2 separate regions of the Homo sapiens genome follow, and region 1 is linked to region 2. The links come from fine-mapping of genetic effects on gene expression. Tissue or cell type: whole blood. Region 2 holds a variant in brackets; the other region holds the start of a gene. All regions are shown on one strand. Distances are from middle to middle.

Region 1 (8,000 bases), 45 kb before region 2:
TTAAAAAATTGTTTTTTTTTTTGAGACAGAGTCTCACTCTGTTGCCCAGGCCAGAGTGCAGAGTGCAGTGGCACAATCTCGGCTCACTGCAACCTCCACCTCCCAGGCTCAAGCGATTCTCCTGCCTCAGCCTCCTAAGTAGCTGGGATTACAGGTGTGCACCACCATGCCTGACTAATTTTTGTATTTTTGGTAGAGACAAGTTTTCGCCATGTTGGCCAGGCTGGTCTCGAACTCCTGGCCTCGAGTGATCCCCATGCCTTGGCCTCTGAAAGTGTTGGGATTACAAGCGTGAGCCACTGCACCCGGCCTATTAATACAATTTTGTAAACCAAAAAGTACCTGAGACAGGTCTCTATCAGTTTAGAGATTTATTTTACCATGGTTGAGGACAAACCTGGGAAAGAGACAACAGCCACAGTAGAATCTGTGGCCCATACTTTTTTTCCAAAGAGGAGTTTGAGACCAGGTGGGGTGGTTCACGCCTGTAATCCCAGCACTTTGGGAGGCAAGGCAGGAGGATCCCTTGAACTCAAGAGTTTGAGACCAGCCTGGGCAACATGGCGTAACCCTGTCTCTACAAAAATCACAAAAAATTAGGCTGGGCGCGGTGGCTCACACCTGCAATTCCAGCACTTTGGGAGGCCAAGGCAGGGGGATCACCTGAGGTCAGGAGTTTGAGACCAGCCTGGCCACCATGGTGAAACCCCATCTCTACTAAAAATACAAAAATTAGGCCAGGCATGATGGCTCACGCCTGTAATCCCAGCACTTTGGGAGGCCGAGGTGGGTGGATCATGAGATCGGGAGTTCGTGACCAGCCTGACCAACAGCGTGAAACCTCGTCTCTAAAAAAATACAAAAAAAAAAATTGCTGGGCATGGTGGTGAGCACCTGTAATCCCAGCTACTCAGGAGGCTGAGGCGGGAGAATCTCTTGAACCCAGGAGGCAGAGGTTGCAGTGAGCCAAGATCACGACACTGCACTCCAGCCTGAGCGACAGAGCAAGACTCCTTCTCAAAAAAAAAAAAAAAATTAGCTGGGCGTGTTGGTGTGCGCCTGTAATCTCAGCTACTTGGGAGGCTGAAGTAGAAGAATCCCTTGAACCTGGCAGGCGGAGGTTGCAGTGAGCCAAGATCGTTGCAGTGAGCCACTGCACTCCAGCCAGGGTGACAGAATAAGACTCCATCTAAAAAAAAAAAAAAAAAAGGCAAAACATAATTAAAGTGAGAATTAAAAAAAAATTAGCCAGGTGTAGTGGTGTGTGCCTATAAACACAGCTACTCAGGAGGTTGAGGTGGGAGAATAGATTGAGCCCAGGAGGTCCAGGCTGCAGTGAACAATGGTCTTGCCTCCAGCCTGGGTGACAGAATGAGACCCTGTCTCAAAAAAACAAAAACAAGGCCGGGCACAGTGGCTCACACCTGTAATCCCAGCACTTTGGGAGGCCGAGGTGGGCGGATCACACGGTCAGGAGATCGAGACCATCCTGGCTAACACGGTGAAACCCCATCTCTACTAAAAAAATACAAAAAAAAAAATTAGCCCGGCGTGGTGGCGGGTGCCTGTAGACCCAGCTACTCAGGAGGCTGAGGCAGGAGAATGGCATGAACCCGGGAGGCGGAGCTGGCAGTGAGCCCCAGATCATGCCACTGCACTCCAGCCTAGATGACAGAGCAAGTCTCCGTCTCAAAAAAAAAAACAAAAAACAAAAAAAAAACCACAAACGAACAGCCCCTGCCCTCCCCCCAAAAAAGACAAACTGCATCTCACACACAGGTGACCCCTGTGAATACAGTCTCTGAGGAGTGATGGAAGAGGAAGCCCTGTGAGAGGTGCAGACTGCTACCCTCTAGAACACCAGGATGCCTAAATAGTAGAGGGCAGTTTCATTAGCGACATCAGTTTGCAAACTGAAAAGAGACACTCTCCTGTAGGTACCAAAGGTGCTCTCTCTTTGTATAGGGAAAAGGCAGGCTGGTTGTTTTTTGTTTTTGTTTTTTGAGACGGAGTCTCGCTCAGTCGCCCAGGCTGGAATGCAGTGGTGCGATCTCGGCTCACTGCAACCTCCACCTCCCAGGTTCATGCCATTCTCCTGCCTCAGCCTCCCGAGTAGCTGGGACTACAGGCGCCCGCCACCACACCCAGCTAATTTTTTTGTATTTTTAGTAGAGACGGGGTTTCACCATGTTAGCCAGGATGGTCTCAATCTTCTGACCTCGTGATCCGCCCGTCTTGGCCTCCCAAAGTGCTGGGATTACAGGCGTGAGCCACCACTCCCGGCCTAGGCTGGTTTATGACTCACAGGGTCTGTATTTCACAATAATCATACATATTCAGCAGGTTTTGGGGAAAAGCTATACATATTTATGAGGGGATGTGAGTGCATGCACAATGGGTAAACACCTGTAACATATGTTCCATGTTCACTTTGGGATGGGGTTTTTGCGTTAAAGTGAGGTGGAATTTGGTTCTTTGCATCATAAGGTGGACTATAGGACACAAACACAGTTTGCGTGCAGTCTCTATGAGCTTGCTGAAACTGGCCTGAGGTCTGCAGTTACTTATCAGGAAAGAATGTTTGTAAGGCCTGTCCTCTGTCGATCAGCGTTGTAGTGGTCTGAGTTGTAAATCTCAGTAAAGAAGAGTCTGACAATTTGCATGATAGCTCCTATTGCTAGGGGTTTAGTAAGAGTGTGGTTTTTCTGGCAGCAGTAGAAATTTAAGAAGTTGCCATGCCAGCTGACAGCTGAGCCCTGAGGTAGGCAACGTTTGTTTCCTTAACCTTAACCTTAAGGTCCATCGTAGTTGATAAAAAGGCATCTGGCCAGGCCTGATGGCTCACGCCTATAATCCCAGCACTTTGGGAGGGTGAGGCGGGAGGCCAGCAGTTCTGGGGCCACTGCACTCCAGCCTGACAGACAGAGACCCTGTCTCAAAAAATAAATAAATAAAAAAGATAAAGGGGCATTTGTCTTGATCGCTCAGATCACACAACTAATAAGTAGCATTCTTTCTAAAAGCCGCAACAATGCTACTCCTCTCTTATAAGAGCTACTGTGTAACTCCTGCCCAACTCAAACCCACAGGCCCAGGCTCAGAACACTTGGCTCCATTGCTTCACTGTTTCCCTGCTAGCACGAACCCCCCAAACTCCATCTCCCAACATGCCGCGGGCCCCCTTTCTGTCAGCCTGACTCTTGAGCTCCTGAGAAATGTAGTTTTTCCAGCGGCCCAGCCCCAGAAAGGTCCTAGCCAAGAACTACAGTTCCCATGTGGCAATGCGCGCGCCATTCCGGTGGAATTCACCGCGGTCTCCAGTTTGCCATGATGGATGCCAGAACCTGCACGTGGGGCTTGGTGACGCGATGACTGAGATGCTGGAGTCCCCGGTCAGAAGGACGATGCCGAGCGCGCCGTATTTTCTCCTGCCTCTCCTCAGATCGCCGCCGTTGTTGGGCTGTGGAGACGTCTCAACCAAAGTGGAGCCGACAGAGGCCCCGGGAGCCGTGGTGACAGAGCGGCCACAACCACTAGGGGGCGGGAGGCAGAGCGGCCCCTAGTCCGCCCCTAGTCCGGGACCTCTGGGCGGTCCCGGGCGGGAAGCGCACGCGCAAACGCGGGGCTTCGCGGCCGCTGTAAACACCAAAGAGCGCCTGCGCAAGCCGAGAGTCTCGGGATCGACACGTGGGGGCGCCTGAGCGAAGATAACCGTAATAAATAGTAACCTAACGGTCCAGTCATCGTTCTGTGGTCCTTTCTTTTATGATTCACAAGGAATGACCCTCTTCATCGCCTCTCCTAATTCAGTCCTCACAACAGTCCTTTTACAAATGGGACAACAGGTTAGAGGAAGTCAGGCAGATTTCCAGCATCATAGAGAGTAAAGGACCAGGGAAGGATCAGGATTCAAGGACTGCACCCAGGCTCTGCTTCCAGCTTGCTGTGTGACTTTGGGTAATTTTGTTCCCTTAGGGAACTGAGCTTTCTCATTTGTAAATGCAAACAGGCTGTTGGGAGGATCAAATGAGATCCAGGGGTGAAAACAGCTTAGTTTACTTTCAGGAATTTACCCACGCGGTATATAAAGGCAAAATATTATTATAGTCAGGTGATTGTAGATTGAGGAACCCATTTCCTCATTCTGCAAATTGCAAACCTGAGGGCCCAAAGAGGGACAGGGGCTTGCCCCAGGTCTCAGCAGGCTGTGAGCAAGAGCTAAAGCCTAATCCTCCTGCCTTTGGGCCTGGAGCCCTTCCTTGTACCCCAGGGGTCAGTGTCTTTGTTGGATACAGGCTTAGATTGACTGACTGTACCCTGAGAACCTAGGGGAGTCCCTGTTCCCAATTCTTCTCCTACCCCCACCTTGGCCTGATGGAGGAAGACCCTGCTGTGTTGAGATGAGCACCAGAGCCAAGAAGCTGAGGAGGATCTGGAGAATTCTGGAGGAAGAGGAGAGTGTTGCTGGAGCTGTACAGACCCTGCTTCTCAGGTCAGTGGCCCAAGTAAGGGAAAGAACCCAGGTGTGACAGATGAGGGGGCAGCACTAAGGGGACAGACTCTGAATGGAAAGGAGTGGGAAGGCAGTGGACACTGTTTCTGAGCTTGGGAGGAATTGGGTACTCAGGTAACTCCATCTGGGGGCAGTGGAGCTGGAGGTGATACCTGGGCTGGCCTGGCTGATGAGAAGGGGAAGTGATGCGCATTGAGCTGAGGTCTAGGAGCCACTCCCCAGCCAGGTGAAGCGAGGTGGCACCTAGGCACACCATGGCACCTGCAGGATCATGCAGCTAACCCCAGGGAAGGGGACTTTTCTCTGACCCTTGGAGCGGTGGAGCTGGGCTGTATGCAGCTGATTCTCTCTAGAGTGCTCTTAGAGGTTTTGGGGGTAGGTTGGGGGAAGGGCTGGGAGACCCTGAGGTCTCATTACAGATTGGGCCTCCCCAGGCAAGTCATGAAAGGCAGGTATATGTAGAAATAGAAATCCAAGATCCTTCAAGATATCCCAGATAGGCCAGGCACGGTGGCTCACGCCTGTAATCTCAGCACTTTGGGAGGCTGAGGCGAGCGGATCACCTGAGGTTGGGGGTTGAGATCAGCCTGACCAAAGTGGAGAAACTCCATCTCTACTAAAAATACAAAAAAAAAAATTAACCGGGCGTTGTGGCGGGCACCTGTAGTCCCAGCTACTCGGGAGGCTGGGGCAGGAGAATGGCGTGAACCCGGGAGACGGAGCTTGCGGTGAGCCGAGATGGCGCCACTGTACTCCAGCCTGGCTGACAGAGTAAGACTCTGTCTCAAAAAAAAAAAAAAAAAAAAAAAAAATTAGCCAGGTGTGGTGGTGTATGCCGGTAGTCCCAGCTACTCGGGAGGCTGAGGCAGAAGAATCGCTTGAACCCAGGAGGCGGAGGTTGTCGTGGGCCGAGATGGTGCCATTGCACTCCAGCCTGGGCAACAAGAACGAAACTCCGTCTCAAAACAAAACAAAACAAAACAAAACACAACAACAAAAAGGTATCCAAGATAATTCAATGGAATTATCTGGAGGTGGATCTTGGATTCACCTCCAAGCATTTAATTATCTGGGCCTTCACTTATCATTTCTGTTTTTCAGCCAGAGAAACTGAGGCTAAAGAAGGAAAAGGACCTCTTTTTTTTTTTTTGAGACGGAATTTCACTCTTGTTGCCCAGGCTGGAGTGCAAGGGTGCGATCTTGGCTCACTGCAACCTCCGCCTCCTGGGTTTAAGCAATTCTCCTGCCTCAGCCTGCCAAGTAGCTGGGATTACAGGTGCCCACTACCATGCCTGGCTAATTTTTTGTATTTTTAGTAGAGACACGGTTTCACCATGTTGGCCAGGCTGGTCTCAAACTCCTGACCTCAGGTGATCCATTCGCGGCCTCCCAAAGTGCTGGGATTATGGGCATGAGTCACCACGCCCGGCCAGAAAAGGACTCTATTAAGGACACACAAGGAGTTGGGGTAGAACTGGACTACGACAGGGATCTTTCCATTACATGGCAGTAGTCAAACATCTTCATCAAACATTTATTTAGTGTCTAATGTATACTCCGAGAAGGACTACCTTGGGGTAGCAAATAGAAGCCAGGATTGCCCTCAGACCTGGCTTTTAACCAGCCCTCCCAGTGATTTAAGACTGTGACCCCAGGTGAGTCCCTGCCCCTCTCTGAGCCTCAAATTGTCTGTAAAGTGGGGATGCTAAGCCTTGGGACTGTCTCAATGTTTACCTATAAATTAAATGAGTTAAGACCTGTTATCAAGGTTTACCTATAAATTAAATGAGTTAAGACCTGTTAAGTGCATAGACCAGCACCAGGCCCGTGGTAAGCATTCAGTAACTGTTAGCCACTGTTGTTACTTGTGAACACAGGTCGAGGCAGGCCGCAGATGGGGTTCTCCAAAAGTCAATGCAGGGGCAGAGAAGCAGCAGCCCCAGGTCTGACCATCTCTAGATACCTCCACACCCTGCCCTGGGTGCCTGCATTTCTGAAAGTCAAGGGAGGACCCATGTCCCCATCTCCTCCTCCAGTTCTGGGAAGCTGGCAGGGGAGAAATGTCTCGAGTGTTTACACCTGCACATGCACATGATTCTCTTCCCCACAACCTGAGGCCAAGAGTGAAGATGGTTTTTACTCAAAGCTACACATTACAGCCCTGGACAGTCAGACCAGAACAAGATCCTGGGCTCTTTCTGGCCCTTTCAGGGTGTGGGGTTGTGCATGAGCTTCCTCCCTGCATGGCAGAAGTCCATGAATGCTAACAGCAGGTTCTTGGTCCTCGTTTCCCCTCATGGAGCAGGGGCTGGGGGAAGAGGGGCGCCTGGGTGGGAGACAGGGCCTGACATCAGATACCCCCCCGGCCCACCTTGTTAGTAGTTGGAGGCCTGGCCCTGTGCTCACTTTAGCTCTGTTTCAAGCTTCCCTAATGGAAGTCTGGTTCAAACTCCTTATTTATAGAGGAGGAAAGAGAATCCCAGAGAGGCCAGAACTCACTGAGAGCCCCACGGCGAGGTAAGCGTGAGTCTGGTCCAGAACTCAAGCCTCCTGACTTCAGGTGAGGGCTCTGCCCACAGCCACATGGGAGGGGGCAGGGCTTGATTCCACCTCTCCTCCCCCCACTACCCTCATAGTCATGCTTGGAGCCAGCTCCCAATGTAGCCACCTGGGTGGGCTGTGGTTTGCAGGGAGGGTTGGGAAGATGGAGAGGTAAGGGAAGGAGAGTACAGGGCCCAGTCGGGAGAAACCCAGGGCCGGTCTGGGGCGAGTGGGGCCGAGAGCTCTCCTTGGTGTGCGTGTGGCTGCTGCAGGATTGTGGGGCCTTCATCAGTCTGAGGCAGCAGAGGATGCAGATCCTGTGGGAGCACATTCCTGGAGGAGGGGAGCAAAGCAGGCTCAGAGGAGTGAGTCACGGAGCCCAAGCCCTAAATTTAGAAGGTGCTGAAAGAGGCAGTCTTCCCCCGGGAAGCCTGTGGAGATACCTGCTGACCCAGAACACCAGGGACTCACGGCAGGGAGCAGTGGTTGGCAGGAGTCCCCAGATAGCAGTGCCCATGGAAGCTGAGCCTGCTGCAGGCCTGTTCCAGGTGTGGGTTTGGAACCTAGGGTGAACCTTGACCCAGGGCAGAGCCTTCAGCCCCATTCTCAGACAGAGCCCCTAGAGAATTCCACCCACACCAGTCCTCACGCGGTCCTGGGAGCCAGCCCCTGGAATGTGGACCTCTCAGTGCCATGCTGCCCTCTGGCTAGACATGGCCAGACCCCCTGTGCCTCACTGCTGTCCCAGCATGCAGCTGTCAGACATTGAGGAGGGGCTGTGTGGGTGCAAGGAGCAAATGCCATTGACACCAGGCCTTTCGCAGCTCTGCTTGGATTGGGGGTGAGGGAGGGGGACAAGATGTCATTTCAGCTACCTCTCTTCCCTCTCAACCCTCCAGGCTCTAGGTTAACCCCACTCAGGAGAAAGAAATCATTGCCTCCAGAC
Region 2 (8,255 bases):
TTGAGGATAAGCCAGCGGGCCAGAGACGGTAGGGAAGGGGGGTGAACCAGCGGGACCCGGGGCTTCCAGCCCGTAGCCCTTTGGCGTGAAGGGTCTCTGGAGTCAGCCGCCCTCGGGCGCCTTGGGGTTCCCATCTGTGAAGTGAAGGCTCCCACCTCGTTGGCCGCTGAGACCTTTACATTTCTGGAGATCTGTACGACCCTATGCCCTGGGCCTGGGGCTCCAGTGACCTTGGGCAGGCTACTTCCGGTCTCTGCATCTCAATTCCCCACCAGTAAATGGGGCATGGCTTCCCCAGAGCCCCTACCTGGCCCAGTTGCTGGTGAAAGAAAGTATGTGCTCAGGGAATGGGGTCACGCTGGGAGTGGGGTGGTTGGGCCTGGAGAGAGCAGGCTTAGGGTGCAGCCTGGGGGCAGGGGATGGGTGTTTGGTGCAGGGCCGGCGGGGAGGGGGGGAATCTGGCCAGAAGCCATCACGCTGTGGTTTCTGCTATATACCGTCCCTTCCCCCACATCCCATATCCTGGGGAGCCTTCCCTGATCCCAGATAGGTGGGAGGGGGGTGCTTCAGGGCCAGATACCTGGGGGTACTCGGAAGGATTTGACTCTTTGGTGGGTCCCAGGGTCCCAGACTGAGGCACTCATGATACCTGTTCGCGGAGAGTCCCCAGAGGCCAGGCTGGGAGAGACTGCCCAGCAAGATCATCACAGGGTAGAAGGAGCCCAGCAGAGCCTTGAAGACAGGTGTGGACAGGTGCAGGCCCCAGGGGAGGGGATGACTGGAATGGGCTTGGCAGTTAAGTGGCAATTTACAAGGATAAGGACCCTCCAAAGGCGAGGGCGTAGCTTGTGCAAAGTCAGGAATTTGGATGGTGTGTCTGAGGAATGGCAGAAAGGTGGGTGTGGCTGGCAGAGGTGTAGAGAGAACTCATCCTGTGTCCCATTCCTGGCTGGGGATTGTCAGGACTGGGCCTGGGGACCTTGCCTCCCCATTGGCTACTTGCATATTGGAGTAGTTTAGGAAGGGGGTGTCCCAGGCAGAGTACCGGTGACTGATGAGGTGGAGGGGGCAGAGGCCACCAGAGCCCTGATGGCCCCCAGGTTTTGTTTTGCATTCAAGCCTCCTACTCAACCCCAGCTTTATACCCCCACCACCTGGGCTCCAGCCATGCTTCACACATCCAGCCTCAGCTTTTTGTACAGATTGTTAATCCTCCTCCCAACCCTCTAGAAGCTTCCTCCCCATTCAAATCCCCAGGTCCTTTGGGACTTCAGGTTTCAGAGATGGGCTGCTGTTGCCCCTCCTTCCTGCCCAGCCTTCAGTCTTGTGTAATGGCACAGCTTAGGAAGGGTCTCCTTGGAGCTCTGTGGGGATGGGGCCTGCAGAGCCATGGGGATCATGGGACCTGGGGCCCCGAGTCCTTGTGCAGCCACCAATCACTATGTGACTCTACAAGTCCCCAAATTCCTCAGAGCCTCCATTTCCCCATCTGCAGGATGGAGTGATCAGCCCTGGCCTCATGCCCCAAAGAGAGACGGTGCTGGGGCAATAGTCAGGCCTATCTGCTAAGATGCTGGGGCAATAGGCCTATCTGCTAAGTCCTGTCTCCAGCATTGAGAGTTTGAATGAAAGAAAGAGAGAACCCAGGGGAAGGGGTCAGTTTAGAGGGGTTGGGGGGGTGTCTGAGAGTATCGGGGGCTAGTGGTGGACCAGGCCTAGGGCATCGGCTGGAGGTGGGGAGTCCCTTCCATTTTCCGGAGCCCTCTCTCCTTCCCACCCAACTCTCCCTTGGCTGAGCTCAAAGCCACCCGCCACTGCCCAAACAAGTGGCCTCTGTTCCCAGGGTAGGGGGAGGGGAGGCAGGCCCTGGGCTCCAGGCCCGCCTGTCCAGCGCTGACCCTGGCCCCCCGCCCCTCACTCTAGGTCTTAACCCTTGGGGGCCTGGACCGGGCCCTGGGCTCCTTGAGGGCTGGTGATTCTTGTTCACCAGCTGTCCCCTCTACCCCGCTTCAGGCTCCCAAGGGTTCTGTCACATCAGGAGGGGATGCAGTAGGAAATGGGGAAGGAAGGAGGGAACAAGGGTGGGGGACAGGCTGGAGCAGATATGGCCATGGACACTTAGAGACCATTTGGCCTAAAAGCTTCTTTCACAGATGGGGAAACTGAGGCCAAGAGCTAGAGATGAGGGTAGGATCACACAGAGACCCCTGGTGGGGGTCAGGACAGGTTCTGTCTCCTAGTCTGGCCTCTCTGGGGGAAAGGGGAGAGAGGGAGAGGGAACTTTTTTTTTTTTTTTGAGACGGAGTCTTGCTCTGTTGCCCAGGCTGGAGTGCAGTGGCACAATCTTGGCTCCACCTTCTGGGTTCATGCCATTCTCCTGCCTCAGCCTCCTGAGTAGCTGGGACTACAGGCGCCCGCCACCACACCTGGCTAATTTTTGTATTTTTAGTAGAGACGGGGTTTCACCTTGTTAGCCAGGATGGTCTCAATCTCCTGACCTCGTGATCTGCCCGCCTCAGCCTCCCAAACTGCTGGGGTTACAGGTGTGAGCCACCACTCCCGGCTGGGAGAGGGAACATTCTTTGTTGAGTACCTGCTGTGTGCTGGACACTGCACATTTGTCATCTAATGATTTACATAATTGCATAAGAGCATAAGACGACCATCACCCTCCAATATCATAGTGGAAGTAACAGCCTTAGAGAAAGCTGAGTAATAACATCAGTGAGAATGAGGTCAGCAAACATGCCTATAGCACTGTTGTAAAGTTTTATCCATATTAACCAATTCCACCCTGCCAATAACCCAAGAAATTAGGTGACATTCTACAGATAAGGAAACTGAGGCACAGAGAGGCTAAGTAACTTGTGTAAGAATACATTGGGAGGGTGGTAGAGAGACAGGGTCAGGACCCAGGTGTTCATTGCCTCCTTTGTCTGACTTCACTTTGATCTTACTCTTTGAGCACCTCCCAGGGCTGAGTGAGGTGCTTTCCCCGGGTGGTGACCGAGGCAGCCTTGAACAGTGTGTGACCCCAGCTAAGCTGACCCAGTCCCCGCTCTGGAGCAGAGTCCAGTCCCTCGGGCAGCTCTTCTCATTTCTTTCTCTGGTCTTGGGCAGGTTAGAGTCAGCACCCTCCACAGCCCTGTGCAGAGAGGTGTTATGTTTTAGAAAGGAGTTCTGTGCTAAGGGTGGCCACTCCAGGGTTCTGAACAGCATGAGGATTTGGTGGGTGGGGAGACATCCCCATCCAATGTGCATGCCCCACAAAACTCAGAGGCTGCCGCTGAATCAACCCCAGTGTCCCCAGCTCTGATCAGAGATAACATTTTTTCCACCTTCCCCTACCCCTGGCCAGGCCCCCAGACTGTATGTGCATTCCAACCAGGGATCTGAGGAGGACAGTCCCACCTGGAGGCAGATGACCCCAGATGTGAAAGATGGTGGGGGGCAATGCATGGATTGTGTTCCACATGGTCTTCCTGTGGAATGTCTCTTTTTCTCATCCTTGGGCCGTAGTACAGAGGGGAAGAGCCTGTCCCATAGTTAGGTTATCTGTCCTAGGCCACTGGGACAGTCAAAGAGTGGCTGGGAGGGGACGTGGAGTTAAGTGACCAGTTCAATAACAAATCATTTTTTTTTTTTTTGAGATGGAGTCTTGCTCTGTAGCCCAGGCTCAAGTGTGGTGGCATGATCTCGGCTCACTGCAACCTCCGCCTCCCGGGTTCAAGCGATTCTCCTGCCTCAGCCTCCCGAGTAGCTGGGATTACAGGCACGCGCCACCATACCCAGCTAATTTTTGTATTTTTAGTAGAGACGGGGTTTCACCATGTTGGCCAGGATGATCTTGAACTCCTGACCTCGTGATCCGCCCGCCTTGGCCTCCCAAAGTGCTGGGATTACAGGTGTGAGCCACTGGGCCCAGTCAACAAATCATTATTTAATAGTAGTAATAATAGTAGCAGTAGCTATTGTTTCTTGGAAGCTGACTATGTGCCAGGCAGTGTGCTAAGCACTTTATATACTGAATTCATTTAATCCTCAAAATAGTCTTCTGAGGTAGGCACCATTCCCATTTTCCACATGAGGAAACTGAGGTCCCAAGAAGTTAAGTGATTTGTCCAAGATCATCCATTACATAGAATAGCTGGGAATCTACATTTCCATTGCTTCACAGTGAAAACCACAAGCACTGGGAGGCATTGCAGACAGAGGAGATCTAAACCCAGTCCTACCCTGGGAATGCCTAGTCAGTGATAGGCAGAGACTAGAGGGCCACCTGGTCAGGTGACATTGCTGGTGACCAACTGTGGATCTGGGGTGCCCTCAAGGGTACAGGGGTATCCTGCTTGCAGACGGGACTAATTGCCGTCAAATCCTGAGCCCCCGTGGCCCTGGCCCTGGGATAAGCGTCTTGTGGAGGTTTGGTTTCTGCTATTGTCCTATCCACCTTGGCTCTTGTTCATACAGTGGTTCTCCCAGACCCCATTTTGCTGATGAGACTAAGGCCAGTAGAAGGTGGTGACTTGCCTGCAGTCTCTCAGCCAAGGAAAGCAAGAGCAGGCCCTGGAACCCCGGCAGGGCGCTCTGAGGCCTGCATTCTACCTCTCTGCTTGAGGCCTGGTTGGGGCTTCCTGAAGTGTTGAGCTTCCTTCAGACCCTGCCCACACTGCCTTGTTACAAGGTCCAAGTCTTTTCTCCCTGACCAAACCAGGAACCTGATCCTGTTGGGATGCTGGGGCTTTGCTACAGCAGGGTGTCAGTAACTGAACAACCCTGGAAACATGGTTCTAGAGCCCAGAGACAGGGACCACCTATGGTCCAGTGTGTGGGGCTCAGGGTCAGAGGGGCCTAGAGGAAGATTAAGGCATCAGAGAGTCCTCCCTGAGGGGATGTGTTAAAATCTCCCTCCTGTCCTTATCCTCACTGTTGTGAGGGCAACGGTAAAGGCAAGAGGGTGGGAGAAGATCAGGAGGGCCACTTCTCTATCCCCATTCTCAGGGCAGAACCAGGGG[T/C]CACACCTGGAATCTTGGCTGTCAGTGGCCCTGGGGGAGCTTGGGCTGGCCCTGCCTCCTTCTGGCCAGGCCAGTGCTGGGGTGGCTTAACCCCCGGGACAGAAGACCAGGAGCAAGGCTGAGCTGCCACTGCATTTCGGCTTTCCAGGTGCCAGGGTCTCCCCTGCCAGCTTTCCTACTGGCCCAGCGAGCACTGCCCCACCCTGGGCATCCCCCTCTCTCCTCCCCAACCCATAATGCATAGGGCAGGGGTCTGCCTGTAGTCAGGTGCAGAGTCAGGAACCCAGGGTCTGCCTCAGGCCTCTAGCTCAGTGAGAGACCTTTGGCTGGGCATTTATCTTTACTGTACTCAACTTCCCTGGAGCTTCAGGGAGGGGCAGTAAGGAGCGACTCTGGGGATCCCCCAGGCTTACCAGCCCCCAGTTGTGAACAGGTCAGGACAGAAACCAACCAAATTGGGCAGGTGAGAGGGGGAGGGGGTTGGGGGGAGGGGGCTGTTCCACTCCTCTCCACTCCCTTCTCTTCACACTGAGCAGCTAGAATTTTAAGATTCTGAGTCTGAGATTCTAGGCTGGTGAGATTCGAGGATTTTAGGGTTTTATGTGCCTGTGAGTCCCAGCTTCTGAATTTCCGAAATTCTAGGTTCCGAGAGCCTAAAAAGCCTCGAGTTGGGCTGGGTCACCCCCAAGTTGAGGCTGGGGCATGTGCCGTGCTTCAGCCTGGTTGGTGCAGACGGCTGAGGCCTGGAGAGTTTCTCAGTGCTGGCTGGTGGGTCAGAGGCACAGCTGGTCTCCAGGTGCCGGGTGCTCCCTGCATCTACCACCCCCAGCACACACCCGGCTGTCTCCCCTTCAAGAAATCTGGGAACCCTGCAGACTAGGTGGTAGCAGAGGGGCACTCAGTTATCTTGGCAGTGGGGAGAGATGGGCCAGGCCCCCTCTGCATTCACGGGTTGTAGTGGGGCTGTTCCCGTGGACACTAGGGCGGGGTTGGGGAGGGCTGGTGGCTGGCTAATTCAAAGAGCAAGGTCAGGGTCACACTGCTGGCCATCAGGGCCAGTATGGGATGTGGCTCAGCAGACCAAGGTTAAGCCTTGAAGGGTCAGAGCCAGGCTCAGGAGCCTCTGCAGAAGGTGGTGGACAGAGATCAAGAGCCTGAGGGGACGTATTGCTCTGCCTTAGGGTATAGAAGGCTGGGCTTGACTGAGGGACTTAGGAGCTACCATCCCTAGCTGTTTCCCGTGCTGTCTGGGCCTGTGGGCACAGCAGCTGCACTCAAGAGGCTGCGGGTCAGGAGCAGCTCTGCCCCTCAGAGAAGCACAACCCAGCCAGGAGCCCAGCCAGGCAGTCGTCCAGGAGAAGGGCACTGACAGCCAAGATTCCAGGTGTGGCCCCTGGTCCTCTCCACCTTTGAGACATGACACAGGTGCCCTTTGGGACACAGGAGTGTCTCCTGGAAGATTGCCTGGCCAGGCTCCTGGCGGGGTCGTGCTTCCCAGCCCCAGCCTGCAGCACATCCCTCCAGTGGGTACTCCATGCGGGTATGGTCAGCATTCCTCATGGGTTGGGGTAGGAGGGGCCCAGTTCTGCACCCCTTGATGTGTGAGCTGGGCAAGGCTTTCACCCACTTGAAACTTGGTCTCTCGGGTGGCCAGGCATGGTGGCTCATGCCTGTAATCCCAGCACTTTGGGAGGCCGACGCGGGCGGATCACAAGGTCAGGAGATCAAGACCATCCTGGCTAACACGGTGAAACCCCGTCTCTACTAAAAATACAAAAAAAAAAAAAAAAAAAAAATTAGCCGGACGTGGTGGCAGGCGCCTGTAGTCCCAGCTACTCAGGAGGCTGAGGCAGGAGAATGGCGTGAACCCGTGAGGCGGAGCTTGCAGTGAGCCGAGATCGAGCCACTGCACTCCAGCCTGGGCGACAGAGCGAGACTCCGTCTCAAAAAAAAAAAAAAAAAAAAAAAAGAAAGAAACTTGGGCTGCTGTGTGGGTTTGCAGCTTAAATGCAAGTTTGTTCCCAGTGGCCACAGTGTGCCTGGTAGGGAGAATGGGCCACCCCTTTCCACTCCAGGAGCAGAGTTGGAGACTGACACTTTTCCAGATGATAACAGGAAAGCTCTGGGGTAGCGGCTCCCGTGCTTGGTGAAGGGGCACCAGAGCCTTGGCTAAAGGCTTCCCTCCCCTGCTCTGCCTGGGGCTGCTCTCTTCCTTCTGTCTCTTTCTCGGCTCTAAAGATGGACATGCTAAGCCTAGGGAGTCTGAAGATCCAGGGGGTGTCTAGTGGTTCTGTTCCAGTTTCTGTTCCACGGACATGAACCAGGACACTCATTTGCCTCTACTGCCTGTGGCCTGAAAACCCACATTTCTCAGTGCAGAACTGGCTTAGCCCACTTGGAGATATGTGGGGGACGGGGGAGGGAGGTTGCTCCAGTATCTCTAATGTTGCCTGAGGCCCCCTCCCCAGTTCTTCCAAGGAACAGGCTGCTGGAGATATCTGAGCTCAGGCTCGGGGGCCAAGGTCTGAGTCATGGTCCTGACTTGCCCGTGCGGCCCTGGCTAGGTTCTTGCCCCTTCTGGGACTGGGACTTACTTTCATTTCTAGAAATGTGGAAGGTTGATTTGGTGGTTCCTAAGTGCCTAAGGAGCAGGTGGTTGGGTTGTGTGGTACTGGTCGAGAAGGCAGGGCTGGGTAGTAGAACTATAGTAGAACTATAACTGGGTGGGACTGGGTGGAATGGGAGGCACCTCGTATTGGGAGGCTGGAGGCTGGGTTCTGGCCACACTTTGGCCACTGATTTGCAGTGGCAAGTTGTCATTTGCCTGGCTCTCCATGTGTAAAATTGGGAAATGTTCGTTCAGTCAACAGATATTCACTGTGTGCCACCTTTGGGACACAGGTATCCCTGGTCTTGCCTGAGAAAGCACCCAGCCAGGGTTGGGGGTAAGAGAGTATGTATGTGACAGACACAGTCACAGATGGTGACACACACAGTCACAGATGGTGACATCTGGTGTGATCAGGGCTGTGACTGTGGGAGTCGGAGACTGCTTCCTCAAGCAGGTGGCACTTGAGCTTGCAGGGTGAGGTAGAGAAAGATGTTCTAGGCAAAGGGAACCGGGTAAGCAAAGGCTTGGTGGTGAAGCCCTGGTGTTGGAGCGTGAGAGTGGAGGAAATGAGACCAGAGGGGAGGGGCAGGTGGCAGGAGCCAGTGGGTGGAAGCCCCTTGAGCCCCACT

The links. PIP is the estimated chance that this variant, and not a neighbour inherited with it, causes the effect.
Region 1: STARD10 starts here. The variant in region 2 is fine-mapped to the expression of STARD10 in whole blood (TOPMed, PIP above 0.99).

Annotation. Positions count from the first base shown.
Region 1 is chr11:72,789,367-72,797,366 of GRCh38, reverse strand. STARD10 (StAR related lipid transfer domain containing 10) reads left to right here and starts at 3,320. Exons shown (of 7, transcript NM_006645.3): 1 at 3,320-4,492. RefSeq lists enhancers at 2,995-3,564, 4,696-5,195.
Region 2 is chr11:72,743,912-72,752,166 of GRCh38, reverse strand. The region is part of intron 1 of ARAP1 (ArfGAP with RhoGAP domain, ankyrin repeat and PH domain 1); the gene reads left to right. Among named protein-coding and RNA genes, the nearest start is that of ARAP1, 4.4 kb to the left of the region's middle. RefSeq lists enhancers at 1-78, 2,738-2,897. The variant T/C (reference allele first, on the strand shown) is at 5,016.